Homo sapiens: one gene and its partners. The protein of the gene in region 3 interacts with the protein of the main gene of each other region in a biochemical or structural test. Each region holds a gene or a part of one and is shown on either strand. Other genes may lie near its edges.

The links.
Region 1: the proteins of FLII (region 3) and LRRFIP1 form a complex in vitro, tested with the Homo sapiens proteins (one study listed by IntAct).
Region 2: of the proteins of FLII (region 3) and RNF34, one has a biochemical effect on the other in vitro, tested with the Homo sapiens proteins (one study listed by BioGRID).

Annotation. Positions count from the first base shown.
Region 1 is NC_000002.12:237,752,990-237,756,722, forward strand, and holds part of LRRFIP1 (leucine-rich repeat flightless-interacting protein 1), read left to right. Parts: intron 1-319; coding exon 320-490; intron 491-3,105; coding exon 3,106-3,198; intron 3,199-3,733.
Region 2 is NC_000012.12:121,413,618-121,417,117, forward strand, and holds part of RNF34 (E3 ubiquitin-protein ligase RNF34), read left to right. Parts: intron 1-2,541; coding exon 2,542-2,760; intron 2,761-3,500. UniProt on the Homo sapiens protein: E3 ubiquitin-protein ligase that regulates several biological processes through the ubiquitin-mediated proteasomal degradation of various target proteins.
Region 3 is NC_000017.11:18,246,448-18,248,892, reverse strand, and holds part of FLII (protein flightless-1 homolog), read left to right. Parts: intron 1-9; coding exon 10-93; intron 94-171; coding exon 172-343; intron 344-859; coding exon 860-964; intron 965-1,044; coding exon 1,045-1,236; intron 1,237-1,535; coding exon 1,536-1,724; intron 1,725-1,840; coding exon 1,841-1,980; intron 1,981-2,064; coding exon 2,065-2,299; intron 2,300-2,430; coding exon 2,431-2,445. UniProt on the Homo sapiens protein: Is a regulator of actin polymerization, required for proper myofibril organization and regulation of the length of sarcomeric thin filaments. It also plays a role in the assembly of cardiomyocyte cell adhesion complexes.

The DNA of each region.
Region 1 (3,733 bases), on a different chromosome or scaffold from region 3:
GATTCCCCAGCTACTGAGTGGGGCCAGAGACTCTACTGCCTCTGTGACCACATCCCTTTCCATACTGGTATCTCGTTTGTTCTAATGAGTGTGTCCATTGCTTTTAATAGTGAATTTTCTGAGCAATGAGAATTTGACCAAATTGAAAAGGGGGATTTCCATGCATTTGAAATTGCCATGTGTTTCTTCTTCTGATCCATTTGCTCTAAGAAATATAGTCTAAGTTTAGGACTGAGGGTTTTTTTTTAACAGAATACTGAATGATTCTTTGTTTTGATTTTTTTATTGCAATTTCAAAAATATGACCTGCTTTCCACAGGACTCTCTAGCAGAAGTTGAAGAGAAATATAAGAAGGCTATGGTTTCCAATGCTCAGCTAGACAATGAAAAGACAAACTTCATGTACCAGGTTGATACCCTAAAAGATATGTTGCTGGAGCTTGAAGAACAGCTGGCTGAATCTAGGCGGCAGTACGAAGAGAAAAACAAAGTAAGCATTAGTATGATACAGAATGTTAACAATAGGCTGCGTGCAGTGGCCCATGCCTGTAATTCTGGTACTTTGGGAGGCCAAGGTGGGAGGATTACTTGAGCCCAAGAGTTCGAGACCAGCCTGGGCAACATGGCGAGACATCATTTCTAAAAAGAATTAAAACAATTAGCCAGGTGGTACATGGCTGTAGTCCCAGCTACTTGGGAAGCTGAGGTGGGAGGATCACTTGAGCCTGGAAGGTTGAGGCTGCAGTGAGCTGTGTTGACACCACTGCACTCCAGCTTGGGCAACAGAGAAGACACTGTCTCAAAAAAAAAAAAAAAAAAAGGGAATGGTAGGGTGTGTGTGTGTGTGTGTGTATGTATGTATGTATGTGTGGATATATCGTGTGTATGTATGTATATATAATGTATAATTTACATTATGTATTTTTATATTTTTAAACAATGGCTCTCCGCTTATCCAGGAAATCCAAACATCTGAGAATAAAAGTACCATACTCTTTGCCAAGTGACTTGAAATATTGATACGTATAATTTCAACATGTAAACTGGAGACAGTTTTTCTAGGAGAACATCTAAGCTAAAAGCAAAACCATGAAAAAACATACCTATGAAAGAGCCACCATGCTCAGATAAGGTGCGATCAGATGCTTCAAGATTTTCCTATTCATATGTATTTTCTGATTTTTATTTTGTTCTCTCTCAACACCATAGGGAAATAGTTATGAGTATCAAAGATTTTAAGAAAATTATATTATTTTCTGCTGATTGGGAAAAGACACAGTTACTCTACTTAAGAATTAAATATATCACCAAGCTCAGAGAGAGAGATAGTCTTATCTGAGCTTTCATTAGGAACCACTGGAACTAGTTTGTTAATAGCTGAGATCAGATATAATTTCTATTGAGAGTCTCAAGCATGAGTCATGTGTTAAGATAAGTAATGACAGCGGACTGATTCCACGAAGGCTGGGCTTGGATGTTCTTTAGATAGAAAGCAAGGAATACTTTTTTCATACTTTTAGGAATTGTCCAATTTTTCAGAGATTCTGAGAAAAACAGAAAATGTAATGTGTGAGTGTCGTTGTTGTTGTTGTTTTTAACTGGCTATTATCCTCTAAATCCAAAGGGTTAAAACCAAGGTACCCTTGACAACCTTCAGGCCTGCTTCTTCGACTGCTATAGAATTGAGTTGGAAGCTGAAGAACATTTTACGCACAAAGTTCCTTATAGCTGAACTCTGCAAGAGGGGAGCTTTTCACAAGACTGATGTCATGTGGGAACGGAGGAGTGGAGAGCACAGCCCAGCCCCCCTTCGGGTGGGGGCCTGTAATGCATATGCATTCCTCCTGGAATGCTGTCATTAGGCATCATTCAGTGGACTGAAAACTCCCGAGTCTCACTCCAGAGAAGCTGGATGGTGCTAGAATGCTGTCCCGAGATGGACACAGGGGCCATGCAAAGCCCCACAGGAGGGCCCTTGTCATAGCCAGGAGGGCACCAGCCACCCCCAAGCTAAAGGAAGTGGGCGAACAGAAGTGCCAGGGTGAGCAGAAGCTCAGGCCAGATCCCATCTCAGATCACCCGCCTGACAGGTCTAGGGAAGGAGCGTCCTGCAGGCCTGTAAGCTGTCAGCAAAGTGAGTTGGGTCTCAGGCCGTCACCAGGGATTGCGCTGCTGTGACTGGGCAGGAACACAGCAGAGCCGAGCTGCCAGCTTCCTGGGCTGAGCCTCAGGTGGGGAGGCCAGGCCTGAGGAGCAGCTAGGTTTTGCAGGCTCTCCATTTGCTCCCCCAAACTCTCCTGTTTTTGTCTCTTAAGGGGCAGCCCTGAAGCACAGAGCTGGCCACCAGCTGTTCATGAGAGATGCTTTAGTAGGCCATGTTTATCTCCTTTTTATCCCAAAGAGTTTTCCTTGTCATATTTCAGCAGGGGCCATTTTATGGTAAGTCCTTGCAGGGCAGCCTCACCCAGGCTCTCAGCACAGTGCTGTGGAAGACACCAGGCTCCCTGGGGGGGCCCTTCGTCGGCTCTTGCTTCACTGTAGATAAGAAATCAGAAAATCCTTGTTGATTGCATCAACTCCTCAGGTTAATTTGACAGTAAGTCATCAGGCATCATCTATAAAGTCCAGAGGAATCTGTTTGTGTTGTTTGAAAGGGCTTGAAGGCCAGGTGCAGTGGCTCATGCCTGTAATCCCAACACTTTGGGAGGCTGGGGCAGGTGGATCGCTTGAGGTCAAGAGTTTGAGACCAGTTTGGCCAACATGGTGAAACCCGATCTCTACCAAAAATAGAAAAATTAGCCGGGCATGGAGGCAGGCGCCTGTATTCCCAGCTACTTGGGAGGCTGAGGCAGCAGAATCGCTTGAACCCAGGAGGCAGAGGTTGCAGTGAGCTGAGATCGCACCACTGTACTCCAGCCTGGACAACAGAGCAAGACTCCATCTCAAAAAAATATATAAATAAAAAATAAAATAAAAGACCTTGAAGATTGTGATGATGTAGTAGCAGGTGATTTGTTCCACAGAAACTATAAATCGTGAGAGCCTGAACTGGCATGCCAGAAACATGGGATTCCACTGCTTTAGTGCTGTTTTTCTCCTTTACAGGAATTTGAAAGGGAAAAACACGCCCACAGTATACTGCAATTTCAGTTTGCTGAAGTCAAGGAGGCCCTGAAGCAAAGAGAGGAAATGCTCGAGGTAGGTAGCATTCTCCTGCTTTTCTTTTCCTTTTTTCCCTTTGGAGCATTTTGTCAGGCCATGACTATCTTAGCTTAGGCTGCAGTAATAAAATACCATACACAGCATGGCTTAAACAACAGAAATTAATTTTCTTACAATTCTGGAGGCTGGGAGTCCAAGATCAAGGTTGGGTTCAGGTGAGGCCTCTCTTCCTGGCCTGCAGACAGCCACCTTCTTGCTATATCCTTCCTCCAACGGTGGAGAAAAAGCAATGTCTCTGATGTCTCTTCATATAAGGACACTAATCCTATTTGATCAGGACCCCACTCTTATGACCTCATTTAACCTTAATTACTTCGTAAAAACCCTATCTCCAAATACAGTCACATTGGGCATTAGGGCTTCAACAGATGAATTTAGAGGGACACAATTCATTCCATGGCAATTACTAAAGTTTTCAGTTTTCTTAAATCTGAGAGTTTAGGCTAACTCTCCATCCCTAGATTTACGAAACAGTCCCTCTCATTGGTGAACATTCCTATTCTTTGGTGAT
Region 2 (3,500 bases), on a different chromosome or scaffold from region 3:
CCCAGGCTGGAGTGCAGTGGTGCTATCTGGGCTCACTGCAAGCTCCGCCTCCCGGGTTCACGCCATTCTCCTGCCTCAGCCTCCCGAGTAGCTGGGACTACAGGCCCCACCAGCATGCCCAGCTAATTTTTTGTATTTTTAGTAGAGACAGGTTTCACCGTGTTGGCCAGGCTAGTCTTGAACTCCTGATCTCGTGATCCACCCGCCTCAGCCTCCCAAAGTGCTGGCATTACAGGTGTGAGCCACCGCGCCCGGCTTCACCTGACTTTTAAAGGCATCACTATTTCTTGAGAATTATAGGGTGTGAAGACTTATAATATTGAAATCCTTGGCTTTGATACTTCAGACTGTTTGAACCTTGTGTTGTGGTTTCTTCTTTACCTTCTCCTTTCTTTATAATACAACATTACTTCTGGGTAATAGCAGAAACAGCCATTATCCTTCTGTTGCATTCCAAAGTGCCTTTTGCATTTTAAGGTTGAGGGCTTTTTATTTGCTTTTTGTTTTAAGAGCTTGCTGGACAAACAGTCCAGCATTTTACATGCTATTATAAAATGTTTGACAGAATCAGATAATAAAATAAATGGAACTGTATTATTATATGCTGCCATTTTAACTAATACCTCAGCTATCTCGACTTCCATTACCTATCACATTATCTAGATTCTAGAATATGCTTAAGAATTAGGACAAAGGCAAAAGCCTATTCGTTCTAAACACTATAGCTTTTATTTTAAGCATGGGAAAATGCCTTTGGCCCTCGCTGAAAATTTATTCTTTTATGTATACTTGGGACAAGCATGGTTATCAGGTTTCTGAGACTGCAGTAAAAAGGAGACAGGTTACTCTGGGCAGGTATAGTGATAGCCCTGGTGGCTCAAAGAGAGGGAAGAGACAAGGAAAAAACCATAGAAAGCAATACATTAGTTCTGGGCCATTTAGTGGAGTAGCAAATAGCCCTTACGCCTTGGAAGGTCATGATGGTTATCAACTCATTAAAAATTATGTTTAGTATCTTCAGTTTGAAAAGGTAAAATAAAAAAATACTTTCCTGTTGTTGTTGTTGTTTTTTCGAGATGGACTCTCGCTCTGTCGCCCAGCCTGGAGTGCAGTGGCTTGATCTCGGATCACAACAATCTCCGCCTCCCGAATTCAAGCAATTCTCGTGCCTTTGGCCCTCGCTGAAAGCTGGGAGGCTGGGCACGGTGGCTCATGCCTGTAATCCCAGCACTTCGGGAGGCCGAGGTGGGTGGATCACCTGAGGTCAGGAGTTCGAGACCAGCCATGGTCAACATGGTGAAACCCTGTGTCTACCAAAACTACAAAAAATTAGCTGGGCATGGTGGCGGATGCCTGTAATCCCAGCTGCTGGGGAGGCTGAGGCAGGAGAATCGCTTGAGCCCGGGAGGCGGACGTTGCAGTGAGCCGAGATCACGCCATTACACTCCAGCCTGGGCAACAAGAGTGAAGTTCCATCTCAAGAAAAAAAAGAATTTGGAAAGTAGAGAAAATTTCAGAGAAAATAAATTACACATAATACATTAAAATCTATTCTGGTTTGTCTACAACTTCAGGTACAAAAAAATCTAGAGAGAGTTTCAGTTGGTGTTTTGATGTTTTCCAAGTCATTTAAAAAATTATTTACATATGCTATAGTATATTATACCCAATTACAAATGCGAAAACAGAGGTTTAAGGAAATGAAGTAATTTAAATTTATGGGCCTGGCATAGTGGCTCACACTTGTAATCTGAGCACTTCAGGAGGCCAAGGTAGGCAGATCACTTGAGGCCACGCATCTGAGACCAGCCTGGACAACATGGTGAAACCCAATCTCTACTAAAAATAAATTAGCCAAGTGTGTGGCGTGTGCCTGTAATCCTAGTTACTCGGGAGGCTGAGGCAGGAGAATCGCTTGAACCCAGGAGGTGGAGGTTGCAGTGAGCCGAGATTGCGCCACTGTACTCCAGCCTGGTTGACAATGAGACCCTGTTTTTAAATAAATAAATTTATTTTAAATAAATAAATAAATTGATGTTATTTCTGTTAAATAATAGCTGAGAAAATCTGCCTTAGACTGTAGAACTGTGGTGCAATGGCCACCAGCCTAATGTTGCCAGGTAAAATACAGGGTGCCTGAAAATTTGAATTTCAGATGAAAAACAAAGAATTTTTAGTATATGCATATCCCAAATATACCACAGGACAGACTTTTGTCCAGTCTTTTTTTTTTTTTTTTTTTTTACATGCCTGTGTACATGTATCTGTTTTGGGTGGGTAGGGAGGTTTTTTGTTCTGTAAAATTTGGATCATGTTCTCTTTTTGTTAAACAAGAGATCATGGGTATTGGCAATGCCAGATATTCTTTGGAAATAGCAGAAAATTCTTTCCAAATGGCTTGAAATTTCAGTGCCCAGAGGAATATAGTAATCTCAAAGTTATTGAGGGCAAACTTACCTCTCCAGAATAGCATTCCCTGAGGATCCCAGAGAGCCCAGATTCCACTTAGCTTTAAACTGTGGGATTTGTGTTCCTTTTTAGGCGGGTGCCACGTCTATGTGGGCTTCGTGCTGTGGGCTGCTGAATGAAGTCATGGGAACTGGAGCTGTCAGGGGCCAGCAGTCAGCATTTGCAGGAGCCACCGGTCCATTCAGATTTACACCAAACCCTGAGTTTTCCACCTACCCACCAGCAGCTACGGAAGGGCCCAACATAGTTTGTAAAGCCTGTGGGCTTTCATTTTCAGTCTTTAGAAAGAAGGTGAGTTGGATGAAATGTTACATAACAACACACATGGGTCAGCATTCTTGATTGTAGGTTATTTTGAATAGCTATTGAATTTTCATTTCTGTTTATAAAAATATCAAAAGCTTAGTTCCATTAGCCATTTTCCATCTAGAAAAATACTTAATTGGAGGGATTATATTACTGCTCAAGTTTTATAGACATTGTTTCTCATGTTCAGGCATCCTTTCTCCTGAACTTTGACCTGTTTGTATCATTTTATTTTCTATTATGTTTATTTCCAAAAGCAAGAAATTTGTTAGTCTGTAGTTTTGTTCACAAATGATTTACTGTAACTATGATTCAGATTCAAGTTTCAAAAAAGTATCCCGTACCTTAACTTTCAAATGAATAAATGAATGCAATAAATTAACTACTCTTTAGAGATTCAACATCAAATACTTAGCTAACAGTTATTTTCACTAAGATGGAAAGTCATTCAGAGACCCATCATATTGGTAGGCCTCCTTGCTCTCTTTGATCTTTAGTTTAGTCTTCTGAAATACTTAAGGAAAAAAAATGTTAGCTTGCAGGAACAATGCAGCGAGCAGAAACGACCACATCTTAGTGCCCTCTTTAAGCTTCTCTAGTGGCAAGGCTTTGATTGTGATTAGGCTGTGTAGTTTACAGATTACTGTATTAGTGGGTCCTGTATTTTCTTGGATTCACCTTGAGAGATCAGTTGCCTTTCTCTTTCCCTGTCAGTCTGTTATGCT
Region 3 (2,445 bases):
CTTGTCCAGGTTTGTTTTCCTGCTGGACCGAGGGCTAGACATCTACGTATGGCGGGGGGCCCAGGCCACACTGAGCAGCACCACCAAGGCCAGGTACAAGGACACCGTGGGGTCTTTTGTGTGAAGGAAAGGGGTGTGAGCCTCGCTGATGACTTTGCATCCTGCTCTCAGGCTCTTTGCAGAGAAAATTAACAAGAATGAGCGGAAAGGGAAGGCTGAGATCACACTGCTGGTGCAGGGCCAGGAGCTCCCAGAGTTCTGGGAGGCACTGGGTGGGGAGCCCTCTGAGATCAAGAAGCACGTGCCTGAAGACTTCTGGCCGCCGCAGCCCAAGCTGTACAAGGTGAGCCCTGCTGCTGAGGCCCACCTTGGCCTCCCAAGTTCACCCACCGACTGGGGGAATGGACTACACACCGATGTAGTTGGCTTTGGGCTCCATCTCGACTTTGGTGGGGAGAGGGTGCCACCTTCTGGACAAGGAACAGTATGAGCAAAGGTCTGGAGGCTGCTTTTGAGAAGTAGCCTCACGGAGTCTTTCCAGGATGGTGGGGCCGTAGGGGAGACAGAAGCACCTAGTGCCAGGGCTGGGAACCTTGGCTCAATTATCTAGATTCTTGTGAACAGGAAAGGGACACGTTAATTAGAAATGGCATGAAGGGCCTGGAGAGGGCAGGCAGGGAAAACTCCATTTAAAAGCCCTTCTGAAAGGATATCCCTAAAAAGACCTTGAAGGGGAGGGGGAAACAGAAGCAGTCAGTGAGCCACGCTGCAGGGCAGGGCTGGTTCCAGAGCAGAGGGCTGTGTGGGTGAGGTTCCTGTCTCCAGATCCCTTCCCTGCCATGCTCATCCTTCCTGCCAGGTGGGCCTGGGCTTGGGCTACCTGGAGCTGCCACAGATCAACTACAAGCTCTCCGTGGAACATAAGCAGCGTCCCAAGGTGGAGCTGATGCCAAGAATGCGGCTGGTAAGAGATGCAGGAGGAGGGCGTGGGGCCAGATCCCTCCCCGTTGGCTGGGCTTTGACCTCCAGACTCCCGGTCCGCAGCTGCAGAGTCTGCTGGACACGCGCTGCGTGTACATTCTGGACTGTTGGTCCGACGTGTTCATCTGGCTCGGCCGCAAGTCCCCGCGCCTGGTGCGCGCTGCCGCCCTCAAGCTGGGTCAGGAGCTGTGCGGGATGCTGCACCGGCCACGCCATGCCACGGTCAGCCGCAGCCTCGAGGGCACCGAGGCGCAGGTGCGCTTGCAGCTTCGGAGGCCCCTCCCCAGGATCCTTCGCACCCTGACATGCCCTGACCCCTGTGGCTTCACTACCTCCCTACAGAGCTGGGCCCAAACCCACCTCCTCTTTGCTGACTCTGCCCAGGCCCCGCCCCCTCTGCAAGCTGCCCCTCCTATTCCTACCTCCGTGTCCGAGGCCCCGCCTCCCAAGCCCCGCCCTAGATCTCCCTTGGGTCCCGCCTCAAGCCTCGGGCTACTTCCTCCAACTCTAATCATGCCGCACCCCTCATGGTTAGTTGATGGCCTCCCTGGCAGGTGTTCAAGGCCAAGTTCAAGAATTGGGACGATGTGTTGACGGTGGACTACACACGCAATGCGGAGGCCGTGCTGCAGAGCCCGGGTCTCTCCGGGAAGGTGAAACGCGACGCCGAGAAGAAAGACCAGATGAAGGCTGACCTCACTGCGCTTTTCCTGCCGCGGCAGCCGCCCATGTCGCTGGCCGAGGTGGGGGCAGGGCCGGGACCGGGGCGCGGGGGGGGGGGTGGGGGGCAGGCCGAGGGCGGGGCCTATGCGCAGAGCGCGCTCAGACCTGCCGCGGGGCGGGTCCCTCTCACCTGCAGGCGGAGCAGCTGATGGAGGAGTGGAACGAAGACCTAGACGGCATGGAGGGTTTCGTGCTGGAGGGCAAGAAGTTTGCGCGGCTGCCGGAAGAGGAGTTTGGCCACTTCTACACGCAGGACTGCTACGTCTTCCTCTGCAGGTACCACCTCAGCACTCCCTTCCCCAAGTCCCTCCCCTGGTGCTGGGGGCTCGAGCCCCTGCTCACAACCTTCCAACCCGGCAGGTACTGGGTGCCTGTGGAGTACGAGGAGGAGGAAAAGAAGGAAGACAAGGAGGAGAAGGCCGAGGGCAAAGAAGGCGAGGAAGCAACCGCTGAGGCAGAGGAGAAGCAGCCAGAGGAGGACTTCCAGTGCATCGTGTACTTCTGGCAGGGCCGTGAAGCCTCCAATATGGGCTGGCTCACCTTCACCTTCAGCCTGCAAAAGAAGTTCGAGAGCCTCTTCCCTGGGAAGCTGGAGGTGTGCCTGGCAGCCCCGCGAGCCCGAGGCCAGGCGGAGGGGTGTGGTGGGGCTCAGACCCAGCGAAGGTTAGGCTCCCGAGGGGCAGGTGGGGGTCCAGGGAGCTGCCCCTAACACTTCCACATCCCCAGGTGGTACGCATGACG